Regions from separate parts of the Homo sapiens genome. Here all the other regions are linked to region 6. The links come from fine-mapping of genetic effects on gene expression. A gene starts in region 6. Each other region holds a variant in brackets. All regions are shown on one strand. Distances are from middle to middle. Region 1 overlaps SORBS3 (sorbin and SH3 domain containing 3). Region 2 overlaps CCAR2 (cell cycle and apoptosis regulator 2). Region 3 overlaps PEBP4 (phosphatidylethanolamine binding protein 4). Region 4 overlaps BIN3 (bridging integrator 3). Region 5 overlaps CCAR2 (cell cycle and apoptosis regulator 2). Region 6 holds the start of BIN3 (bridging integrator 3).

Region 1 (4,101 bases), 99 kb after region 6:
TCCTGTGAATGCCCCAGGGTCCCTTCATGCTCTCACTAGCCCCTGATCCAGCTCCTCAGAGCAACTCAGCCTGTGCTCACCGTAGTCTTTCCCAGGCCTGCCTCCTGCCCTCTGGGCCCTAAGCACTGAACCCTCGCCTCCTCTGAGCACCTGGTGCCTTCCTGTCCATTCCACCAGTTCCACACTTCAATTATACATGCACCGACCTCAGGGCTAGAAACCCAATGAGGAGACCAAGGCCACAAGGCCACATAGCTGCCAGGAGGGATTGGGAACATCACAGACCAGCGCCTCCTCCCTGCCCCAAATCACCATAAGCTCTTCGAGGACAAGGGCTACCTGGTAGAAGTTTCCCAAATCCACAGGTGGGGACTTGGGGGAGGGTGGAATATGGGGCATTGCCTGCCAGTGACCCCCCCCACGTCTGATCAAGAGCCCTCAGATGGTACTCACGGGGTCCAGTGTATCTGAGAGGTGTTAGGAGAGGAGGTCCCCAGGTCCAGGGGATGGCTGGGACCTCGAGAGTGGGACAGAGCTGGACCAGGGGTGCCAAGATTCTGGGAGTTGACAGGAAGAAAGGGATGTCAGAGGGAGGAAGACGATGGGTACATGTAAGCCTGAGGGAGGAGGCCCAAAATGGGCGTTCCCAGTCCACCTGCCAGCACGCCTTACAAACGGCTTCATCTTAGCCTCCAAACCCCCAGGGCACAGGGACACCTGCTGTGACTATTTCATTTCACAGGGGCCAGAAAACTGAGGCCCAAGTAAGGTCAGTGCCTGGGTTTCTGGACGCCAGCATGGATGAACCAAGAACACCCAGGGTCAGGAGCCTGGGCCGGCTTTGGGATTCCATCTAGAGCTCCCTCGGCTAGAGCTCGGTAGGTTGAGGTCCCCCAGGCCAGGGTGGGGCTGCCATACTAGCTTCTGCCCTGTCACCCCACTCCTATGTCCCAGGGCTGTCTGGGAAGGAGTCCCAAGTGTGGACAAGTCACGGGGGTGGGGGATGAGGGGTGAGGAGGAGGTCGACTCTCTGGTGGAGGCAGGCTACCTCACCTGGGTCTGGGGTCTAGGCTCCTGGGTGGGGAAGGAGAAGCCAGTGCGACGGGGGGAGGTCTGTCCCCCCAAGTCGATGGGGTCAGCTGGGCTGCGCAGGGCTGAGGGGGAGCTGGGGTGACGGGCTGAGCGGGCGGCAGCGGTCAGGCGGGGAGACGTGGGGAGCTGGGGGCCGTCGTCACAGAGCCGGAGCCGGGGTTCACGAGACACCTGCACGTAGCTGGCAGGGAATATGCCTTGGCGCCCCGTGCCCGTGATGCGTCCCTCGTACCAGTTCTCGTTCACCTTGCGGATCAGGCAGATGTGCTCTCCCTGAGGGGGGAAAAGTCAGTGTCTGTGGGGCCTTCCTGGTGCCATGGACCCACGGGTGCCTTATCTGGGCTGTCTCATTCAACCCTAACACCTTGGACACACGAGGGGTCGGAATCGCAGGGGGCCAGCAGTTTACCCGAGTCACACGGTAAGAGCAGGAGCCAGGAGCCAAGCCCAGGCTGCCCAGGCAAGGCTGAGGCTGAGACTGGGTCCTGCCTCTTGGAAGCTCAACGGGTGTGCATCCCCCTTCGGCGTTCATAGCAAGGTCCCTCCCCAGAGCTCCGATCACAGGTGAGCCCGTGGCTAATAATACAGATCCAAACCCAGCTCCACCAGGCCAAGCTGTGTGGCCTCAGGCAGCCTGCTCTGTCTCTCTGAGCCTTGTTTTCTCCTATGTTAAGTGAAAATAACCATACTGTCACTATGAGGTGTGAACGAGATCAACAGTCCACTCCTTAGACACACTGGACAGGTGCTACCACTACTGCCCTGCCTGGGTCCTGTTCCTGCCTCACGCTGGGGGACCTTGTCATGAGCGTGTCAAAAACACACTCCCCAGGACAGGCAGGGAGTCCTGAAGGCCACAGGCTGGCTGACATTAGGTAGAACCACCCCCTGGGAGGGTGGCCTCCAGCCCTTGCCTTCCCCTGTCCTCTCCTGCCCCCATCTGTCTCCATCCAGCCACCTTCTTCCCCCTCTGTCCCTGGGGCCAGCTCTTCTGGGA[G/A]GCATTCACTATGGGCCGTCTTTCGCTTATTTTGGGAGCATGATCACTGCTCCCAAAATCAACCAAAGGCAGACCACTTCCCTGCTTTCTAGAACAGCATTTTTCAAACTTGTTTCACCACAATCTACAGTTAAAAATGTTTTAATAACAGCCCAGAATACATATATATGTGCATACACAGAACTGCCTACGGTATGATAAAGTGCTTTCTGCTCGCAACGCATGCTAACATTTCTGTCTATACCTTTAAAAATGCTGAGTATGATCCCCTGCAACCTGCAGTTGAAAAAATATATATGTAACTCTAGAAGTTTATGATGATCTTTTAAAAATGGACCAAAATTACTTGGGAGGCTGGGGCAGGGACAGGGGATCGCTTGAGCCCAGGAGTTCAAGGTCAGCCCGGGCAACATAGTGAGATGCTGTCTCAAAAAAAAGCAAAAAAAAGCCACTACACTAAAGGAAGCATAATGAAAGAGACTGGGGAAAACTTTGAAATCCTGGGTGAAGCTAGGTACATCGGACTCTTTTTTAAAGAAGTGTTTTTAGGCCAGGCGCGGTGGCTCACGCCTGTAATCCCAACACTTTAGGAGGCTGAGGCGGGTGGATTATGAGGTCAAGAGACTGAGACCATCCTGGCCAACATCGTGAAACCCTGTCTCTACTAAAAATACAAAAATTAGCTGGGTGTTGTGGCGCGTGCCTGTAGTCCCAGCTACTCGGGAAGCTGAGGCAGGAGAATTGCTTGAACCCGGGAGGCGGAGGTTGCAGTGAGCCGAGATGGCACCACTGCGCTACAGCCTGGCGATAGAGTGAGACTCTGTCTCAAAAAAAAAAAACTGTTTTTAGTGCACATATTTACCTACATCTTCACCTGCCCCCACCCACCCCTCCGTCTCCGGCCTGGCCCACCTTGCGGAAGGACAGCTCCACCTCCAGGTCCCCCTTGAAGGTGTACTGGGCCACAGCCTCTCCATACTCCAGCACCTGGTAGGTCGGGGGCTTGATGGGCTTAGGGATCTCATCTGCGGGCAGCACCTGCATGAAGAAAGGTCATGAGAAAGATTTGGCCTGGGCATCAACATAGCACAGGCTGGGGGTTCCTGTGAGACAGCAAAGAGAAGGTGGGCCCGCCCCTAGGCAGAGAAAAGATATAAACACCAGACACAAGCCCTGGGGGCAGCCACGGGTGGGCACAGCCAAAGGGTGCTGGAGGATGGGGAGGAGTCTGGGAACGCTCCCTGGAAGAAGAATTTTCCATAGGGATATATGGAGTGGGCATTACTGAAGTGAAGAACTCCAAGAGAAAAGATGGAAGCCAGTCCAATTAGAGAGTTTAAGTTGGACCACAGAAGAAAATGAGGCGTTCCAAGCAGCAAGGGGAACTTGGGGAACTGTTCCAAAACTGAGCATTCACCCTTTTCTCACTGCTGAGAACCGGGTGTCCCTGGGTTCCAGCGTCTCGGTTCTTCCTCCCCATCTACCCCAGCCGGAGCCCAGAATCCTCACGTTCTCTTTGCTTCACTCTGCCCATAAAAATCAAGCAGCCAATAAACCATTTCACACAAAGATAGAAACGACTGGCGGAGTGAAATACTGTATATACTTTGTGAAATTTCAGGACCAAGTGGATCATCGTGTAAGCAAGGGAGGCCTAATGATACCTATCAAAACAAGAGCCTGAATTAAACAACAACCCAACCCATGGGTCAAAGAGGAAGTCACAGACGAGATGAGAAAACAGTCAAGAGTTGATGAAAAATCAAAATGTGTGAGATGCAGTTAAAGCAGCATTCTAGGGAAAAATGTTTCAAATCAATAGTCTAAACTTTCATCCTAAGAAACTTAGAAAAATAACAAATTAAACCAAAAGCAAGCAACAATAAGCAAATAAGAAGCAGAACTCAATGAAATCGAAAACAAAAACGAGAGAAAAACATGAATAAAATCCAAAGATCAAGTAAATTAATAAAGCTCTAGACAGAATAAGAGAAGACGCAAATTGCCAACAT
Region 2 (4,000 bases), 54 kb after region 6:
ATTTAATTTCATTAAGTGGGATTCAGAGCATGCCAGGGCATCGCCAGACACCTGGGCTTTTTTCCTCAGGAGTTGATCTTGGTCCCAGAAGAAATTACATTCATTTGATTGATAGTATTTAAACAAGCAGCAGCTGGCCATGGTGGCTCACACCTGTAATCCCAGCACTCCTGAGGTCAGGAGTTCAAGACCAGCCAGGCCAACATGGTGAAACCCCATCTCTACAAAAATTAGCTGGGCATGGTGGTAGGTGCCTGTAATCCCACCTACTGGAGAGAGGCTGAGGCAGGAGAATCGTTTGAACCTGGGAGGCAGAGGTTGCAGTGAGCCGAGGTTGCGCCACTGCACTTCAGCCTGGGTGACAGAGCAAGACTCCATCTCCCCAAAAAAAAAAAAAAAAAAAAAAAAAAAAAAGCAGACTAGTATTTTAGAAAAGGTTTACAAATCTTTTTTTTTCTTTTTTGAGACAGAGAGTCTTACTCTCTCGCCCAGGCTGGACTGCAGTGGCGCGACCTCGGCTCACTGCAACCTCCGCCTCCCGGGTTCAAGCGATTCTCCTGCCTCAGCCTCCCGAGTAGCTGAGAAAACAGGCATGCACCACCACACCCGGCTAATTTTTGTATTTTTAGTAGAGACGGCGTTTCACTATATTGGCCAGGCTGGTCTCAAACTCCTGACCTCATGATCTGCCCACCTCGGTCTCCCAAAGTGCTGGGATTACAGGGGTGAGCTACAGCGCCCGGCCTACAAAATTTTCTAGTTAACCATCAGGCAATCAAAGCACCCCACTCTGCCAAGCGTTCTCAGTGACAAGGGTTTCTGTGCTGTCAGGCTGCTCAGCCATGCTCCCTGCACTCTGCGCCACCTTCCCTTGCACTAGGTGTGCTACTTACTAGCTGTGCGGCCTCAGTCCATGCCGAGCAAGGGTGCAGGGAATGAGCTAAGGCACAGGAAGCGCTCGGAACAGAGCCCGGGGTAAAGGTGCGCGGTCACGGTAAGCACTATGACAGCCCGAGGTGGCAGGGTACTCACCAGCGGGGCCTCTGACTCTGTAGCCGGGCCCTCATTCTGTGCCTCATCCTTGGGCTCCTTGACCACCTCCTCTTTGATGGCTTCTTCCTCCTTGGTGGCTTCTTCCTTGGCCGCCTCCTCCTTCTCAGGTTCAGGTGGGGACACGACCTTTTCAGGAAGGCTCAGTAGCATCTTATAAACTCTATAGCCAAAATCCCTCTGGAGCATCTCCAGAAACAGCTCGGCCAGCACCATCACCTGATGGGGAGGTGGGAGGGTCCATGAGCATCAGGAAGAAAGACTGCTTCAGGCCCACAAATCCCAGCCCACAGCCTCCCCAAGACTCTTGACACCTGCCTCAAAAGAGATCCTTTCCTTTGGCCTCCGATCCTCCACAATCCCATGGAGGGACAGGTTTACACAGCCAGGGCGTGCGATGACAGCAGGTTCTAGGGGGGGTGGAGGGGCCTCTGGGAGATCAGTGTCCGTTTCCTGCTGTGTGGTGGCCTCTGGAGTTTCTGCGTTCCGTCTAGAAGTGTCTGCTGCTTGCTCCAAGGC[A/G]TCAGGTGCCTGTTCAGTAGGCTCCGTTTCCTGTGACAACAGCTGAAATGAGACCCTCTGGGTCCCGGGATTAGGCCACCTATATCCCCCGCTGCTGGCTAAGGCACAGCCTTACCCCTTGTGCCTCCTGGGTTGGGGGAGCTGCCTCTGCAGCTTTCTGCTGGCACAGGGCCTCCCACTCCTCCAAAGTAGGCATGATGGTCCAGACATCCGGCAGGTACACCACCACTGTCTGAAGCCGCCGGGGGGGTCCCGGCTGCAGGTACTGAAACTCGGCAAAGCGCCACCTGCACATGGCAAAAGGAGGTACTAACTTCTTTAGTGACAACTCCACGCAGACACCACGTTCACAGGCAAGGGCTTCAGTTTCCAGTCAGCACTCAATGAGCACACACTGCGAACCAAGCTTTGAAGACACAACAGGAAAGCTACAGACCAAGTCCTCAAGAAATGATCAGTCAGTGGGGAGGCCGCAACCACACAAGCACCCTACAAGGTGCAAGGACAACTCCAGGGAGTCTCAAGTGCAGCCTGGTGGCTCAGCCAGATTTTGGCATACACCCCACCCTACCCTGAGGCACCAGAGGGGGAAGGAACGGGACTAGGGGGCAGAGAGCTAACCAGCAGAAAGGGGCAGGGACCGGGCCTTCCCAACAAAACCTCCCCAACCTGGTGCGTTGGTGCAGCTGAGGCTCAGGAAGCCCACTCACCACTTGGTACAGCCGCTCAAATCAATGCCAGTCTGGGCCTGCGCACAGCGGATGGCGGTACGCACCAGCACCTGCGGGTCAGCCTGGGGGTCGAGGCCATCCAGGGAAGGAGACCATTCACCCCCAACCAGCACTGCCTCCTCTTCTTTCCTGCCCAGCAAAAACTGCAAGAAGAGATCAGGGATACAAAACAAAAAACTACATTACCTGGGTCTCCCACTGCAGGGCAAGGCTGCCACCCATCAGGATGAAGGCAGCCGGAAGTGGGGAAGTCCACCACACAGTGAGGTCTCTATCTGCAAACATGAACCAGCCACCTCGCTCTCTCTGACTAGTCGTAACAGCTCTGAGCTGCACCTTCCTCCTGGGTGAAATGAGGGGTGTTCGGCTCTGAGATGCCTCGTTTTATGCATTCAGGAACAGGAGCCGAACACTCAAAACATGACAGGTTGTGCACATTACCCGTGAATGCATCTCCTCCTGCTCTCCAGCTCTTACCTTAATCTGCTTCAGAGGATGCTCTGGCGTCTCCCTTGGCTCAGCCATGTCATCCACAAAGAGCATGCAACAACGATACAATTCCTCCAACCCCGGGGAAGAGAGCAGCAGTACCTGTGCAGGAGGAGACACTCAGAGCTGCCTTCAGCCTCCAGAAATCAGATAAGTGAGAGACGCCTGTCAGCTTACCTTCGAACTATAAGCGGGGTCACTGTCTGCAGTGATGGGCTCAGCACCAGCGTCTGGAGCTGCCTCCTTTTCAGAAGAGACCTGGATCCGGCTTGGATGATGGAGGGAAAAGGGCTGGCTCAGGGGGAAGGCTGATAGCCAACTCAGATGCACGGACAGAAAATCTGAGGGGACCAGGAGGCTGCGGTAACGGCGCTGGAGTTCTAGGAAGTCACAGATGGGGCTACAGGAAGACAGCAAGGGAATCCAGACTGAGCAAAGACTAAAACATTCGAAATGAAACCATCAAAGATTTGAAAAAATGGGCGAATTTTTTTTCAGTCTGAGAACTTTTGAAGTAAGGCACCTCTCAAGGAAGCTAGATCAGATCTGACCACTTAATTTACAAACTCTAGATGGCAAAAGTCAAACTGGGAAAGGGAAAAAAGAAAACACTTATAACACATGACAGAGAAATGGGTCATTGCCTTAATATAAAGGAACTCACAAATCAGTAACAAAAAGTTCAAAAGCCTAAAACGGAAAATTGACATCAATAGGTTCTTAAGAGAAATACATAAGAATTAGAGGCCAGGAAAATATGCTCAATCTCACTTACAATTAAAGAAATGCAAACCACATTATCATGTGTCACCAACTAGACAGACAAAGATGAAAAAGTCGGCTAACAGTGTTGGCAACGGCACGGGGAAATAAGGTCTCCACACCCCACTGGTTAGAGCAGAAGGGGCACAGCCTCTTCAGGAGAACTGGCAATAGCTATGGAAGCTTAAAGCAAAGCCTTTGAGCCAGCTGCTCCATTTCTAGAAATTGATCGCAACAAACACACAGGTGTAGGTAGAAGGATGTTCATTCCAAGAAAATTTAGGATAGAGTGCAAATGGAGAACTGGGTAAATAAATCATGTTCATCCATTCAATGAATACTGTGTAGTTGCTAAAAAAAAAAAAAAAAAAAAAGAACTAGATCTAATAAATGTTCATACGAAATAAAATCTAAAGTACATTCAGTGAAAAGGCAAACCACCAAACAGT
Region 3 (4,101 bases), 120 kb before region 6:
CTCTACAAAAAAAAAAAAGTTCTTAGCCAGGCGTGGTGGTGTGTGCCTGTAGTCCCAGCTACTCTAGAGGCTGAGGCAGGAGGATCACTTGAGTCTAGGAGTTCAAGGCTGCAGTGAGCCATGATCACACCACTGCAGTCCAGCCTGGGAGACAGATTGAGACCCTGTCTAAAAAAAAAAAAGAATCCAGTGCTTTTAAATGTTAGCCCCCTAGTGCACAGGCTTTGTCTGACTTGTTTATTGCTGTACACTCAGGGCCTAGGACAGTGTTTAATGAAGAGTAAGTGCTTATTAAATGTTTGTTGAATAAATTAAATATGATAACTTAAATATTGGCTTCTAGGAGTCTGCACTGAGTTACACATATATGTGATGAATATATCTACACTTCCGCGGCTGCCTTGTGAATATGCATTATGTGTTTGTACGTAAAATATGTAGAGGACCCTAAAATGAATGTGCATGCGTGTGCGCGCACACACAAGCACGCGCGAACGCACAGAGAGCTTGGGAAAATATCAAAAGGAGAAGCCCACAGCTTTCTCGGTAGTCGATCGCACCCTTGGAGAAGAGGATTCCAATAAAATAGAATTTGGATGGTGTCACAAATAAATTTGCCTTTCTAAAAGCTACCAAATTAAAATTTGAGAGAGGGTTGAGCATGAGGACAGGATGGCAATGAGCAGATATGAATTTGCTTTATTTGTACGGCTCAAAACTCCTCTCTCTACCATTTGCGGGTGAGGAAAGAAGACTGCAGGACCGGAGACAAGATGAGAAGCTCTGAGGCTGCTCCCTTCTCTGCTCCTCAGCCCGAGCTTCTCCAGGAGCCCACTAGATATGGCAGCCCCTTCCCCTTGCACCCCCAGAAGCCCGTGGAATCCAGTTCTTTCTGTGTGTGTCTGGGGTGGGGAGGTTGGTTGCCTGCGTGAAGAGGCAGCCCTTTAGGGCAATGGTGCAGCAACATTACCCAGCTTAGATCTCTATTCATCTGGTCTTCTGGCCTATCAAAGGGTAGTGGCTGACCACCCCCACCTCCCCTCAGAAATAAAGTAACTGCTGTCATATTGTTCCAGCATCTTAAGCCCTGGGGGGTCATCGTGTGTCCCAGTTACTCACAGAGCCCAGTGCCGCCTGCTAAAGACTGTATTTAAGGGTAATATAAACAGTTTGATCTTTAAAGTACCCTGGATGCATAATATCTATACATAGTTCTTGAATTTTTCTTCTAAAAACAATTAGCCAAAAAGCCCTTTTTATATGATATTTGCAACTACACTGACAGTAACAGCAATTAAACCCCGTCTGTTTGCTGAGAAAGGAGCCAACTCTTCATTTCTCCAGAAGCCTGTAAAATGTACAAATTCGGAACTAGAACACTGAGCCTTCAAAGGTAGCCACAAGACCCTTCAAGGTCAGGCCCCAGCCCAGCTTTTATTTCCCCCTCCACCCCACGTGATCCCATCATCCCAACCAGCCCCAGCAAGGCCGAGATATCCCTGGTGTTTTCTGCCCCTGCTAAGCTGTTGCCATGCTTAGGGGCCTTGTCTGGGATGTCTTCCTCTTCCGTGCCCCTCTTCCCCCACCGGTATGCCAAGGCACGGTTCAAATCCCACCGATGTAAGCAGGCTTCCTGGTCTACCTCAGCCATCAGGGCCCTCGTCATCCCTTGAAT[C/T]CCTGTATCTACCCCCTCAGGAGGTGCTTCCACATGGCCTGAGGATAATTGGTTCTAAGGGTCTCTGCCCCCACTCTGGACTGTGACCTCCTTGAGGGCAAAACTGCACCTAGCTCTCTGCCTGCACATGTGATGAATAAATAAATGAGTGAATGAAGGAAGGAAGGAAGGAAAGAATCATCAAACAGCCCATGCAATGGTTGAAGGATGACAAAAGGAAGTTAACAGGCATATGAAATAAAGACCACAGCTCTGGTGCTGAGACTTAGAGAGGGTTGATGGGGAGGAGCAGGGAGATCTGCTAGCAGGCTATTCAGTGGCCCAGGAGAGGGATGACGGAGCGGCCATGGGGGTCAGCGGGCCATGGGGCCAGAGAAGAGGCATTGGACTCCCCATCCTGGAAGGCCAGGCCCAACACCCTCTCTCTTGCATCAGAAAGAGTGCTACAGAATTACCAAATCAACATGGACTACAGGGCATCTGCCCGTTGCACCTGTCCCCGAAGATGTTGAACTCGGTAAAAATGAAGTGCTGTCTTTGCATTGGAGGGTTAGCAGAGTGGGAGGCGGAGAGGAATTTTTTCTGGAGGAAGGAGAATCATGTCTGTCACAAAAGTGTTTGACAAGGTGAGCATCCATTTCTTAAGAAGACAGTGAAGCCTAGCTCTGGGCCACCCAGAGACTGATTTCCCTTTGGGGCACTGGATCAGCTCGCAAAGGACCCCCATGCTGCTGCAGACGTTGCCCCAGAGCTCTGCAGTGGGCCCAGGTACTTTCCTGTGGCCTAGAGCAGCTTTGAGCTGCATAGGTCTTCAGAGGCTGGGAGGAAGGGAGGAGCCCACAGCCCCACCTCAGGGGGCTTAGGAATAGAGTCACCTCTTAAGTATCAGCGGGGTCTCTCTGAGGGGTGGCAAACGTACCAGCATAAACTGAAGGTTGGACGACCCTAGTTTCAGGCTGGCACCCACCCCCATCTCTGACTAGTCACTGTCTAGACTTCCCTAGGAGCTTGAATTTCTTCGTCTCAAAAAAAGCGAGGTTGGGCCCGACGATCTCTAGGGGTGATTTCCGCTTCTAAAATTCTATAGTTTCAGAATTTCTCCGCTTCCTTGACTCACTGACAGCCTACTCTCCATCCTAATGACTTAAAAATTCCTGTGAACACACTTAGTGTATAACTGTCTTTCTGTTTCATTTTTTAGTTACAATATTCTAGATAATACTCTTCTTGCTTGCCAAGAAAAGAAAAAAAATGACATTAATTAAAGATTTGGTCTGTGTCCTAATCAAAAATTTTGAAAATGAATGTATCATACTGTACATTCTGCAATGTAGCCTGCTTTCTTACTTAGCAATATATCATTAACATTTTCCCATGTCAACACATAATCTTCTAAACCATGATTTTTAGTGCAGAAGTAGTTTACCATATGGATGTACTATAATTTACTCAGCCAATCCTCTACTATTGGACATTAGGTTGTATCTGCTTTTTTTTTATATTATCACCAACGCTACAATGAACAAAGTTGTGAATACACAACTCTTCATTCACCTCTGTGGTGACTTTCTGAGAATAAATTCTCAGAGGTCAAAGGTTTTGCATATTCAAAGGCTTTTTGGTACATGTTAACTAAAATGCCATCCAGAATTTAGAATTTCTATCAATGTAGAATCCTTGTATCAATTTAGAATTCATAGCATATGAATAACCATCAGGACAGTCATATTTTAGAGTTGAAAAGAGACCTAGCAAGGCTGTGGTCCAGCCTCTCCAGTTTACAGATGAGGAAACCGAGGCCCAGGATGGGACACGTGTAGGTATTTGTCCTGGGTACTCCTCGCAGTATGGGTGAGACTCTGAACACCGCCAGGACCCTGCTTGTGCCCCAGCCTGCCAACCTCGGTCCCCACTGCCATAACTCAGGGCTTCTAGGGCCTTCCCTCCCTGCGTCACCTCTCATGGGCCCTCATAGCCACACGGCTTCCGCCTAAGAGCAGGCTGCACTTGCCATTTCTCCCTCTTCTCTTCTCATTCGTCTTTCCCTGCTCCTTCTTTGTCCCCCTGGCAGCCACTTTCTGATGGAAACATGCAGTTCTTGTCCCAGGGGTTTCTCGGTGATAGTTAGAAGCCCTCTCCCATTTTGAAACCCCTTCATCTTTCAGCTACCTGGATCCCACTGCCACCTGCCCTTTTGGCCAGTCCTTCTCAACATCCTTCCCAGGTTCCCTCCCTCTACCTGGCTTCCTGCCTGCTGCTCCTGGTTCTCCCAGCATCCCCCTTCCCTTCATATGTTCCCAGGATGAGCCCGTGCATCCCTGAAGCCTCCAGCCACACCCACTTTTCCTCTGCCAGAGCTCCAAGCCTGTGGGCCCGTTGCACGCCTCCCCCTGCACGCTCTGTAGGCCCATCCACAACGCGTTATC
Region 4 (4,101 bases), 34 kb after region 6:
CCTGGCAATGGCCATGTGAGAGTCATTCACTCATAGCCTTTGGGTGTAGTGGCACTTCAGTCAGCGGGAAAAGTCCCCGTGGAGAAGATCCCTTTCTCCTCCTCCTTGGCAGGCCCTCCAGAGCACCTGGGCTTCGCTCAGGTAGGGGGAAGGAAGGGGACCCCAAGCAGCCCGTCCCCTGCCTTGCAGGCTGGAAGAGCAGACCCGGAGGCTGCAGAAAGACATGAAGAAGAGCACCGACGCAGACCTGGGTAGGTGACTTTCCACCCGCACCACTCGCTTGAGCAGGTGGGGCAGAGGTGGGCACCCTCCTCTCTCAGCCCCCCAAGGGCTCTGAAGTTGCTGCGCTCAGAGGACGTGTACCCAGTGTCCTGAGAAGCAGCCTCAGGGCAGTCACTCCTCACCAGTCACATCCCACTTTGCACAGAGCTCGCACTGCCCCACTCTGGATGTGGGTGCTGGGGCAAGGCTCTCCTGGGACTCCAGTCAGGACAGTACAGCAGCTGGTGGAAGCTTCTGGTAGCAGATGCCTCCATTGCCTCAGAATCCTGGCCACCGGCTCAGGCTGTCCAGAGGGAAAGGGAAGCACATTCCTTCCCGCAGAAACGAGACTCCGTGGCCTGCTGGGACAGGCGCTCCAGTGGCAACAAGAATGGAAGCTGTCATGTGTTTAAACAGGAGGTTGGGTTAAAGTGTAAGGCCAGAAATACCCCAGATAATTCTATGATGACAAAGGGCACCGGGAGGTCCTTGGGAAGTGGGGGCCAGCAGGTGCTGGGAAACAGCCAGGGCCCTTGGGGAGGTTTCTTGGCTGGAGAGCTCTTGTTTGAAACAAGGAGGAACCAGGCCTGGGAGCCTAGAGACACAAGCAGGTCGGGAATAAGGGAGCATCCAGAGCCCTTGCTGCAGGCCATGTCCCAGGAAGGAGGCGACGAGCAGCCGGGAGAGATGGAGACCATTCCTTGAGGTTCTTTCTCCAAGGCCTTGACTTTCCCACCCCGGAGCAGCAAGCACTTGACCAAAGGTTGATCAATAGCTTCAGCACTCCCTGCGCAGCTCTGGACAGCTGACTTAGCTCTACCTCAGTTCCGTCACCCGAGAAGCACAGGTAACGCCAATCCGAGTGGCACAGGCTGTTGCTGAAGATGAAGTTGGATGAGCAACGTAAAGCACTGAGAACAGGGCCTGGCACGGGTCAGCTCTCGGGGTGTCCGCTCCTGTCATCACCGTCGTCATGGTCGGCAGCAAGCCTCCCTGACTGGGTGGACTCCTGCAGCTCCTTCCCTGGGTCCAGTGGGGAAGCCGTGTCTATATACCACACTGGGACGAGGACCTGAAAGAGACTTGGGTATGGCCAGGACTGCCCACTTCCTCTCACTCAGCAGATGCTGACCGAGAACCCACGTGCACCAGGCACTCTCAGCACTAGAGACTCAACAGCAAGACAAGATGGGAGCTTACGTTCTAGGAGGAAGACCTGCAAGAGGTCCACAAGCGGATCGGTATATAATGACACGTCGTGGCGTGCAAGGTCAATAAAAATAAGGAGGTGGAGAGTGACAGGGTCAAGGGAGGCCTTCGTGGGGACGTGATCCCTGGGCAGAGTCCTGAAGGAATGAATAACCCACACAGGTAGAGCCAAGGGAAGAGGGCCTGAAACACAGTGGACAGCAAGCGCGGAGGCCCTAAGGTGGTGCACGCTGACCAGAGATGCAGGAGAGGCAGCAGGAGGGTGGAGAAGCCATCTTCAGTCCCCTCGGCCACTCCAGCTGCTGAATAATGCCATGTTATGGCTGTGAAGAAATTTCACCTCCCTGAGCTTTTCTGACCTTGAGATTGGCAGGGCACATGACACACCCATTTTATAAATGGGCATGTCCATTTGATAAAGGAGGAAGAGTTCAGCTCCTCTTCTCCAAGTCCAGGGCCTTGTCTCCACAGCGAAGCCTCCCCATGCCCCACTCATTCCTTTGCCCACCCCCGTGCCCGCCACCAAACTAGAAGGTGACCGAAACAGCCCCCACTCCGGAACCGTTGCCCATCCACTCTTTGCTTGGCTGTCTGTGAGCCTAGTGCAAATGGGGCGGCCTCACTGTCTCCTGACACCATTCAAAGGGCCACAGGGCAGTGGGCACCTACGGGTGGGACTTGAGGACCAGTGTGCTCCTACTTGGTACTGCAGTTACGAGGAAAACCCTTGAAATGTCCCAATAGAGGCAGTGATTTGAATTTGTTCCCATTTTATGCCAGCTCCTAAGCCTCAGCCAGTTACTGATGTGTAAACACACCTTTCCTACAAAGCACTGATCACAAAAGGAAAGCGTTCCTTCCCTGGGAGCCGCCGTCACCACCACCATGCCC[G/A]GGTGAGCGCTGACTGCCTGTGCAGGGACTGTGGCCGTCTTGGTCTGTGCCATGAATTTTCATGCCAGTGCTAATTCCTGGGCCGTGGGCTGGTCTGAACATGCACCTTGCTCCTGGCCTCTAGCGTTGCCAAACTATGTGTGTCACAAGCCAAGGACTGGATTTGGGAGTTTGTCTGCAGTTGTTTGTTTTGTAGTTATTTCAGGTCTGAGTTACTTGGGTCGCATTTTTCTTGATCGGTCCCCACTGCCTTTCCAGTTCGGGAGCTGCTGTGAGCCATTGCTTCCTTTCCTTCCTGCTTCTGCAGACAGCTGCATTGTCAGAGCATAAACGAAGCCAGGGTGTGCTGTGTTCACAGTGGCTTGCTACGGAACCAAGGAGGGCATCAGGGGTCCGTGACGCACCGTCCATGGCTGTGGAAAGCTTAGTTTCCCAGCAGAGAAACCAGAGTTGAATGGGTAACTGCAGAAGCCTAACACTACTGTCCTCAGTCAGGAATGGATGTGGGCAGAGACAGTGCCTCTGAAGAGCGGTGGTGGTGGTCATGGGGCCAAGGCGAGCCTGACAGCCACATCAGTCTCATGTACGGGGCATCAGTGTTGTAGGCGGGCTTGCTGTGCCGTGGGCCGCTGGGCCCCACCTCCAGCCTCCAACTAACTCATGAGCTGGGCGAGACCTGAAAATGTGTGTCCCTGGAGTTCCCAGGTGATGCTGAGGCCCACACTGTGAGCTCCACTGATCTGGACAGTTGAGGGGAATGGAGGGATGCTTTTCCTGAGCGTGGAATCTCCTGCGCTCCCCCAGCAAGGTGGAAAATCCCCAGTTATTCTAAAAAAGATGACCTTTCTTTCAGAAACTCATACTACTTTCAGAGTGCTCTGGTGAATCTTTGAATCTTACATTCCAGAGGCCGCATCAGGACTCCAGAGACCCGGGTGGGGTCCAAGACCCTCACTTTCTCTAAGGTTCAAAGATCACCAGCCTCCTGGTGTGGGCCAGGCTGACTGTGCCCCTCTCCCAGTCCCTGCAGGGAACAATGAGGGGTATGGGCTGGGGCAGGGACCACAGGTCCAGAGGGGCATGGAGACCTGCTGTTTATTTTTGTTGAGGGGGAACAGAGTCACACTGTGTCATCCAGGCTGGTCTCGAACTCCTGGGCTCAAGGGATCCTCCTGCTTCAGCTTCCCAAAGCACAGGGATTACAGGCATGAGCCACTACGCCCAGCCAAGACCATGGTGTTCTTGGTGTCATCTACCCCAGCTCTGCTCTGCTCACATGAAGCGGGGGCATCACTGGGCGGGGATTCCAGACCCAGTTCTGCCCAGGGCCGGCCACTGAGCCCACTCAGTTCCTTGACTTCCTGACAATGCAAGAGCTTTAGGAAAGAAAGGGGAAAATGCAGCTGGGCTGGGCGCAGTGGCTCACACCTGTAATCCCAGCACTTTGGCAGGCAAAGGCAGGTAGATCACCTGAGGTCAGGAGTTCGAGACCAGCCTGGCCAACATGGTGAAACCCCGTCTCTACTAAAAATACAAAAATTAGGTGGGTGTGATGGCAGGCACCTGTAATCCCAGCTACTTGAGAGGCTGAGGCAGGAGAATCACTTGAAGCCAGGAGGCGGAGGATGCAGTGAGCCGAGATGATGCCATTGCACTCCATCCAGCCTGGGTGACAAGAGCGAAACTCCGTCTGAAAAAAAAAAAAAAAAGGAAAGTGGAAAGACCGTGTCCTCGCTCCTC
Region 5 (4,088 bases), 48 kb after region 6:
CCCGCGTGTCCAGGTTGGAGCAGATGGGAGGCCAGGGATGCCCTTTAACCAGGCAGCATTGCTGGGGGCTGTTGACTGCCTCTTGGGCCCCAGCCTCCCCCTCGCCCGCCCGGCTGCCATTAGTCATGGAGAAGTGAGTATTCCCAGTGACTCAGCGCACAGTGGCTTGGGCAGGGAGTGGGGGCAGGGTGGGCCGCCGCCAGCCCAGAGGTGACAGCAGTGTGTTGAGACCAGCTCACTTTAGCACCCCCTCGGCCGGCGGAAATCTCGCCTCAGGAGTATCAGCCGTGGGTCCCCGCCCCACCTGGCATTTCCCACAAGGTCCCCTTAGTGTCTAGAGCTCCTCCTCATGTCTAGAGTGAAACGTGGAAGCTTTCAGGAAACTGCATGCTTTCATTGGGTCATGAGGTAGAAACTGAGGCAGAAGTGGCCCCTATTGTCTGTGGAAAAGCCCCTGGTCCTCAGCCATCTGGGAGAATTGACGGGCTTCCCCATTCCTCCACCTGCCCCACCCTCAACCCTGTGTCCCCTCCCACACCATTTCTGGTGCCTCCCTAGAGGGACCCTGGCAGTGAACCTGGCCTCTGAGCTGTCCCCCTGGCCACGCAGCTTGGGCCATGAGCAAGGGTGGGATGCAAGTTGGGAGGGAACAGAAGGCTAGACGGGCATCCCCTTTCTTGCCTGTGCCTCTAAAGCTGGCTTAGGGCTTTGGGAGCCATCAGCCTACCATGCTGTCTTTCTGCCATGGACAAAAGCCTTGGGTTCTCCCCTAGCTTACAAAAAGCAGTAAAACTCCAGTCATGGTGCCCATCATTCCACAGTCGCCCTAGGAGGCCCATGCCTTCCTGCACCTGCTGCTGGGGGAACCAGGAGCCCGAAGCAGGGGCGCCTCCACCTCCAGCCACTGAGGCCCTGTTGCTCCCCGGCTCCTTTTGGTTCAGTCTCAGCTAGAGCCCTTCCGTGCCCTGCATATCCCCAAAGGCACGCTGCTGCACAGCTCCAGATGGGTAAGGGCAGGGGGTAGCAGAGAAGTGTGAGCCTCTGGCCCCCTGAAGCACACGGTTCCCTGGAGCCAGCACGTGCCAACCCCTGTCGCCTCCCCCAGGTTGTGTACTACTCGGAAATGCACAAGATCTTTGGAGACCTGTCCCATCAGCTTGACCAGCCAGGCCACTCCGATGAGCAGCGGGAGCGGGAGAACGAGGCCAAACTCAGTGAGCTCCGGGCCCTCTCCATTGTGGCCGATGACTGAATCCCCGTCACTCTTGGAGGACTCCTGTGACGTGGTCAGCCTCATTCATCCTTGCCCTTCTCAGGGCTAGCTGCTCCTCTCACAGGCTGGGGACAGAGGTGGCCCTGGTTCACTTGCCGGCCCTTTGCAATGAATGACTCTTCCTGAGCCTGGCACCAGGAGCCCTAGGCAGGCCGCCGTCTCCCCACTCACAGCCCCAGCAGGTAAGCAGTGTAGACAAACCCTTGGGGCTTTTTTATTTGGAGAACCGTCCAGCATGCATCCTGGCCCACGGCCTGAGCAAGCTGCAGCCCTTCTGAGGCCATGGGCTTCGTTGGCTAAGTTGGGGGTCTTAGCCTTGCATGCGTTGTGGGCATCAAATCTACCTCCAAAAGACCCATCCTGGGGAGCCCTCTGGCCCCTCGTTGCCTTTTCACTTCAAAACCTCTTTTTTCTGGGAGAGGCCCTGAACCCTGTGCGGGAGAGCTGGTCCTCCAGCCCTGGCAGGCCCTCAGCCAGCTTCCCAGCAAGACAAAGGGCACCCTTGTGGCTTTGGGACCTAAGTGGTTGGGGTTCCCGAGGTCACTGAGGACTGGTACCTCGGGAACGCAAGCTGTCAGTGGAACTGTCCCACAAGAATTCACAGGTCTCAAAGCAGGAACAGTGGGTTTGTGTCTCACCTGAGTATCTGGAATTTTATTTTTTCAAGTAAAATTTTCAATGAAACGTCCACATAGTATTGTGCTGTAACTTAGGCGAGCAGAGGAAACCCCTTCCTGGGCCTGCTGCCCTCCACGGAGCAGCAGCACCCTCCAGCAGGCAGCCCAGCATGCCAGGGGTGTGTGCGCACCTCCCCGGCCCTGGCCCACCTTCTGGAGCGAACTGCACCGTGGTCCAGCAGAGGCGCTGGGTGGGAGGGCACGCGGGCAAGCCTAGGAGAGTAGGAAGAGCTGTGGAGGACACACTCTCAGTTTGTTTTTGACTTTGGTTTATTTAAAAAACAAGCCAAAAAAAAAAAAAAAAAACCCCAACTTTATATACAAAGTCAAACTGAAACCACGGATTATGGAAAGAGGCAAGAATTATGGGTAACAGGGGAGAAGGCTGGGCCAGAGCCAATACCACATTCTGAACACAGGAGCCACGGG[A/G]AAGAGGTGCTGGTTTCTTCTGGCAAGACCGGGGTGACTGGAACGCAGTGTTCTACTGGCAAACCCAGCCCAACACTGAGCTCTTTCTAGCATGGACTCCATTCCCGTGATGGCCAAGGGAGACCCTTCCCCCAGAAGCCTGTGTCCGGAACCTAGCAGAGCCTGTGCCATCCGGAGGAGGGGGCTGCTTAGCCCCAGCCAGGCTCCATGTCTTGCTCTTCAGTTCCGTTCACTGACATCAGACCTTGTCCCACACTCGAAAAGCCTTTTTCTCCCCTGTCTTATTCTAAACTGGAAGAGGACAGGAGAAAGTCAGCACAAGACTAAAAGGGCCCCAGGAGAAATACCAAGGTTGAGGGCAAAATGACATTCTAGGGGTGCAAAAGATGTTGTATTTAGTTGTTAAGTGGAACCGGGGTTCCTCACACATCCATCCCACATAGCACAGCCCCCAGCCTGATGGCCTGCCGTCCCCTAGAGGCTGAGCATGGGGTCAGCCACCCCTGCCCTGGCTCCCAGGTCTCGCTCTCGCTGCTTTCTGGTACCGCAAGGGCTCCAACTTTGCCGGGCGCCACCGCTGCCCTCACAGGATGGCAGTTCCGTGCGAGGCCGTCAGTTGCTAGGTGCCGGCTCCTCCTTCTCCACCCAGCTGTCAGCCTGTTTGAAACAGATGATGTACCCAGAATCGGGCCTGGCAAGGTGATCTGAGGACTGCGGACTGCGGACTGCCTCCTGCTGGGAAGCTCCCACTGCACGCTGCTGACTGCTCAATTCCCAGAGAACCTGCAACCAGGGGCACACTGCCTGGCAAGCGATGGAAAGACGAAGCCGGTGCCTGCTGGCCCTCTGGTCACTCCCGACACGGGCAAGCGCCCTTCTGGGGACTTTTGGAGCTCAGGGAAAGGAGCTGTGCTGCCTCCTGGTCCACCCCCACCTTACCTTTTCCACCACCCGCTGGATCTCCAGCTGCAGGGGGGTCAGACGCCTGCGGAGCTCCTGCAGCAGCCGCTGGAGCTGGCTCTTCTGTCGCTCCGCCGTCCGGGCGGTCTCCTCGGCCTCCGCCAGCCGGACTCGCAGCTCCTGCATCTCTGCCGCCAGCGTCTTATTGGTTACTTCAGTGGCTGAGAAACGGTTATGGCTCTCCTCTGCAAGGTGGAGAAGGAAACGGGGACGGCTGCTCCATCAAGGCCCAGAGCACAGGGCAGGGCCTGAGCCTAAGCAGCAGGTTCCCTACTGGTCTGCATGTGACCCCATGGTGGCTGCAGCCCCAGGCCCTCACCCAGCTTCAGCTCCAGTGTGTGGATCTTGTTCTCTAGGTAGAGCCGGCCGCTGTCCTGCTGCTCCGCGCGCTGCAGCAGGCTCCCCACGTTAATCAGGCTGCCATTGTGGGACACCAAGGCTTTGTGTTCTGTGGGGGCAGCACCTGGCTTCGTGCTTTTCCCAGGAGGGGGCAGCAGGTCCAGGTTTCCTAGAGAGAACCGTGAAAAAGAATTCAGGATGGAGTCTCCAGAGAGGGCAGCCTGCCCTGCCCGTGCCCCAGGAAGGCTGCAGGGCCCCAGAACATACCGAAGAGCACCTCCTCGGGAAGGCCACCATCCAGGCCCTCCTGGCGGCTGTACTGAAGGCTCCGGTACTGGCAGATGTTCTGGGTCACCACCCTGCTGACCAGCTGCTTGGCCTGCAGAAAACACATCTGCTGATCAGAAGGC
Region 6 (4,101 bases):
GAGGGGACTAAGGCCACAAAGGGGATGTGACTTATCTGAGGTCAGTTATAGTGTCAAAGGTTGAACTGGAAATAGAGCCGCAGACTCCTCCAGACTTGTAGTCCAGAACTTATCCATTCTAGTCCTCTAGGATGTGTCTGCTGCCCTCCAGCCCTGAAACAGACTTCTACTAGGATATAGCAGTTACCTAGGCTAAAACGTTTGGAAATATTTATCCCTGTGGGGCATAACTGAGGGAGGCAGAACATGGGGAAGGGAGGAAGCAGGTGGGAAAACTATTCACAGGTGCTAACTGCCAGGAGGCTCCTAAACCCACAACAGCCCTTCCATCCGTCACACTCTCTGCAAAGCAGCAAGGACTCTCTCTTTCCCTTTACCCACACTCTCTGCCCAGGCTACCCTTTGGTGACTTCTGCTCTTCCTCTTTACTCTTCAAGGCTGCTCTTGTGCTCATTTTGGCCTGTTTCCTGAGGAACAACATGGTAATGAAGCTGATCTGCATGATGTGCTTGGGGATCCAACCTCCATTGGAAACGTCAATTGAGTCAAACTATGGACTCTCAAGAATGGAAACAGAAAACACAAATGAGAGACTGCATCCTGTGGCCCACCCTCCTACCTCTCCTGCTCAAGCCCTCTACTCCACCCTAGGAGGTCAAAACAAATCATACACTACTTCTGCTCTAGGTCATTGGTCATATTTTTCCCGCTAGGTCATTGATTAGCAACCCCCTAAGCAGTCCCTGAAACAATCCCGGTCCATCTGAGGAAGGAGAATTCCTAGAGAGAAGGTCACTGGGGGCCCAGCAGCACCTGCACGGGCCTCACTGCCTTCTTGTCTCTCTTCCAAGGCAGGGAGGTACTTAGCGGTGAGGAAACCAAGTCGGCCCAGAATCCCAGGCAACTTGTGAGCCACTAAGGCCCTGAATTCTGACTTTGGGAGACCCGAGGCAAGTCAGCTGCTTGCTTGGTCCTGTCTGTGTCTTAGCCATGGTAAGTTCCCTCTGCCTGGAGCCTCGTCACCCCTCATCTCAGATTCACCTGGCTAGCCCCGATTCTGCCTTCAGGGCTTGGCTTACACACTGGCTCCTCCTGGAAGCCTTCCCCAAAACCCCATGTGCTACTTCAGGGTCCCCTTCTAGGCTGCCACCACACCTCATTCTATCCTATCCTATAGCATGATTATAATTGCCTGCTTGTCTCTCCCTCCAGGAAAGTAGCTCTGGGAAGGAACAAGAGCAGGGCAGATACTTCTCTGAGATAGCTGTATCCTAAGGTTGGCTCGGTACCTGACACTAATATTAGTGCAACTAGTATTAGTTAAATGAAGGAATAGAACGAATGGGGCAATTTACATCATTTGAGTCCTGTAGAGGAGACCAAAGGGAAGGGCTGAAAGGCAGGGAACAACTCATACTCTGCGTCTTATTGTGTTGAATAACTCTAGGAAACATTCCAACCTGAAAAGCACCTATCTATTGATATTCAGAGCCCTGTGCCATCTTGGAAGGGAAACGTCCGTTTGTTTGTAACAGGTAATGCATGTGTGGTGTACAAACTGTAAAAGATAGGAAAGAGCATTCAGAGAATGTAAGTTTTCCACTTTCTCCATCCCAAATGGCTTCTTCTCCCACAGACAATTGCTGCCACTGTCTCTGGATTAGAAACCACTTGACAGAGGGGACAGCCCGGCTAAGGGCCCTGCATGGTCAGGTGAAGAGATCTTTAGGAGTCAGTGTTGAAGGCAGAAAACGCCCCCAGAGGTTCCCCTCATCCCCCGTTGCAGCCTGTGTGTCTAAGCGCTTGGCCAGAGCCAGAGAGTCGCCGGCAAGGGAAACTCCGCGGCGAGCACGCAGCAGCAGAAGGGTTAACGCGCCGGGCTCCGCCTCCCAACCGCCTCTTCCGGGCAGAGAGGCGGGCTTACGTCACTTCCTGGAGACTGGTTGAATCCGGAAGTGACCCTAGAGAAACGAGTTGTGGCTGAGGACCCCGGCGGCAGACGCAGGTTCGGGACCATGAGCTGGTGAGTGAGGCCCAGGCGGCGGGAGCTGCTGGACCCGCGGACCCGCGAGGCCCCTGGCCCTGTGTCAGTGCCGCGTCCCGGCTCCCTCCGGTCCCGCGCGACCCCTCCGCCCCAGAGCAAGGCCCGACAGCCCCTGCCCTAGGGTCGTTCCCTCGGTGCTTTCCGGAGTCGCAGTCTCTCAGCAGGACTCCCGGGGAGAGTGGCGGATGATCCTCTTAGCCTGGGACTCCGCGTCTGACCCGTTTTGCCGGACTCGCGTCCTCCTAGCTCCTTGAAGTGAGGGACTTCCTTGTTCCCTCCTTTTTTAAACACCCATTGAGGTGGAGTCAGTGTCGTCTTTCTCTCCTGTGGGCATCTCTGCCCCGCGCCAGTCCCTCCAGAGCTGTGGCCCTCGCTGTGGCAGCCTGGACCCAGTTCACTAATCAAAACCCACTCCCTTCTGGGTAACTATCCTCTTTGCACGACTTAGCAGGCTTCAAAAGACAAGGAAAACTTGCTTCTCTTTTTAAAGGGGCCAGAATTACACTCCGCACACACCCTTCCACTGTGGGATTGGACTGGTTTTAATCATTCCAGAGCTATTACTCACTGCCTGCCCTCTAAATAGGCATGGTTAAGTTTAAACTTATGGGAACTATCATGCCATGAGAAAAGAAGCCAGGGAGTCTTAGAGTAATAGAGTCACAATTCCAGTTGCTGCAGTATGATGTGATACTTGGGTCATAGTAGACACTTCATAATGGTGTATTTATTTTGTAAGACTCAGTTTGCCCAAAAGGCAATCCCCATTTGTTGCTCTCGATTATTTATGTTCACAGGAGAGAATTGTGACTTGCCTGCCTTCCTGGGGCTTTCTTAGAGGTTAGAGAATACTCATATGCAGCACCTTACCTTACCGTCAGGCCCAAGGACCTATATAGCCACAACCCTGGACCTCAGGGGATTCAACTATAGTGTGTGAATAAATTGAGCCCCAGAGATGTACAAGATTAATCAGCCCATGGACATAGGGAACATATTTGCCACTCTGTCCTCAGAGGCTAGTGTGTTTGTTTATGCAAAGCGCATGATAACCAGTTATGAATGAATTAAGATAACAGAATGTCCTTCAGGAAGGCTTTTGAAGCTTAATTTTGGCCATCAGTGGAGAACGCAAGCAGCTGATATCAGTCAGTGTCAGGGATACTTCTCTAAAGTAAAATGCGAACCATCTGTCCCCTCCCCCACCTGTTTCTTAGACCAAGATTGATGGACAAATGTCAGACAATCACCGCAAGCACGGGAGGAAAGCCTGAAGCAATGTCCTAATAAGCCCCGGCAGGAGCTTCTGCTTTTCCCTCCACCATTTGCTCCAGGAGGCCAATAAGGGGCTGGAGCCTTAAAAAGCTACCTTCCCTGTCTTGTTATAACCTAGTTAGTGGTGGGCAAAGCGGCAATTCTTCAGTTCCCTTTCCCAGAGGAATTACGTCCTTTCAGTGTCATTCTGGGCCCCCCAGTCTTGCAATATAGATATCCTTTTGGCTGCTGCGTCTTGAATCTTTGGAGTGTTCTTACCTAATTTTTCAAAGTGAAAATGAGGCAGTACAGATGCTTTATATTGCCTAGATTGGCCTTTACTGAACCAATCTTTCCTTCACAAGTTGGGAGAAGAGCACAGCAGAAACTAATAAAGGTAAATGATTCTCTGGGTGATCCGAAGCAGGTTGTTTCCACCTGTCTCACAGAAAGTTTCCCTTCTGAAAAAATAGTAGCCCATTCCTTAAAGGTTATCCTGTCAGGTTGGAGAGAATTGAGATTGACAACTGTCTAACAAGAGCTGAGATTTTCATCTAGTAGCTTTAATTTACCAGTACATGCACATCTTGGTATCTCCTTGGACTGAGAGTCACAGCCAGAAGGGTGGCTTTGTCCCTCAAAGCTGAGATTCCTTTCTCTTCCCCCTTAAAGGGCTTCTACGTCATCTCTTGCGTGGACCCTGACCCTGTCTCTCAAAGACGGGAACAGCACCGGCGCCTGGGCACACAATCACACTCAGTTCCTAGCTCAATGGCTGGCAAGGAGACCGGGGCTGGGTCCTT

Evidence for each region.
Region 1: its variant is fine-mapped to the expression of BIN3 in whole blood (INTERVAL, PIP 0.98).
Region 2: its variant is fine-mapped to the expression of BIN3 in whole blood (TOPMed, PIP above 0.99).
Region 3: its variant is fine-mapped to the expression of BIN3 in putamen (GTEx, PIP 0.95).
Region 4: its variant is fine-mapped to the expression of BIN3 in whole blood (INTERVAL, PIP above 0.99). The same link has a PIP of 0.9 or more in blood mononuclear cells.
Region 5: its variant is fine-mapped to the expression of BIN3 in whole blood (TOPMed, PIP above 0.99). The same link has a PIP of 0.9 or more in adrenal gland, aorta, atrial appendage, caudate, cerebral cortex and esophagus mucosa.

The regions. Positions count from the first base shown.
Region 1 is chr8:22,568,174-22,572,274 of GRCh38, reverse strand. It overlaps SORBS3 (sorbin and SH3 domain containing 3), which reads right to left. Exons shown (of 21, transcript NM_005775.5): 17 at 3,002-3,127; 18 at 1,054-1,365; 19 at 454-557. Among named protein-coding and RNA genes, the nearest start is that of PDLIM2, 10 kb to the left of the region's middle. RefSeq lists an enhancer at 1-395. The variant G/A (reference allele first, on the strand shown) is at 2,090.
Region 2 is chr8:22,613,281-22,617,280 of GRCh38, reverse strand. CCAR2 (cell cycle and apoptosis regulator 2) reads right to left here. Exons shown (of 21, transcript NM_001393997.1): 9 at 2,967-3,189; 10 at 2,778-2,891; 11 at 2,280-2,443; 12 at 1,685-1,856; 13 at 1,369-1,599; 14 at 1,033-1,269. Among named protein-coding and RNA genes, the nearest start is that of CCAR2, 11 kb to the right of the region's middle. The variant A/G (reference allele first, on the strand shown) is at 1,570.
Region 3 is chr8:22,787,945-22,792,045 of GRCh38, reverse strand. The region is part of intron 4 of PEBP4 (phosphatidylethanolamine binding protein 4); the gene reads left to right. Among named protein-coding and RNA genes, the nearest start is that of PEBP4-AS1, 88 kb to the left of the region's middle. The variant C/T (reference allele first, on the strand shown) is at 1,676.
Region 4 is chr8:22,632,675-22,636,775 of GRCh38, reverse strand. It overlaps BIN3 (bridging integrator 3), which reads left to right. Exons shown (of 9, transcript NM_018688.6): 4 at 190-251. Among named protein-coding and RNA genes, the nearest start is that of BIN3-IT1, 7.5 kb to the left of the region's middle. The variant G/A (reference allele first, on the strand shown) is at 2,362.
Region 5 is chr8:22,618,586-22,622,673 of GRCh38, reverse strand. CCAR2 (cell cycle and apoptosis regulator 2) reads right to left here. Exons shown (of 21, transcript NM_001393997.1): 18 at 3,946-4,057; 19 at 3,659-3,847; 20 at 3,319-3,524; 21 at 2,203-3,036. The coding sequence ends at 2,992. BIN3 (bridging integrator 3) reads left to right here. Exons shown (of 9, transcript NM_018688.6): 9 at 1,106-2,256. The coding sequence ends at 1,252. Among named protein-coding and RNA genes, the nearest start is that of CCAR2, 16 kb to the right of the region's middle. The variant A/G (reference allele first, on the strand shown) is at 2,380.
Region 6 is chr8:22,666,966-22,671,066 of GRCh38, reverse strand. It overlaps BIN3 (bridging integrator 3), which reads left to right and starts at 1,946. Exons shown (of 9, transcript NM_018688.6): 1 at 1,946-2,023. The coding sequence starts at 2,016. RefSeq lists enhancers at 1,777-1,836, 1,594-2,223 and a silencer at 2,087-2,246.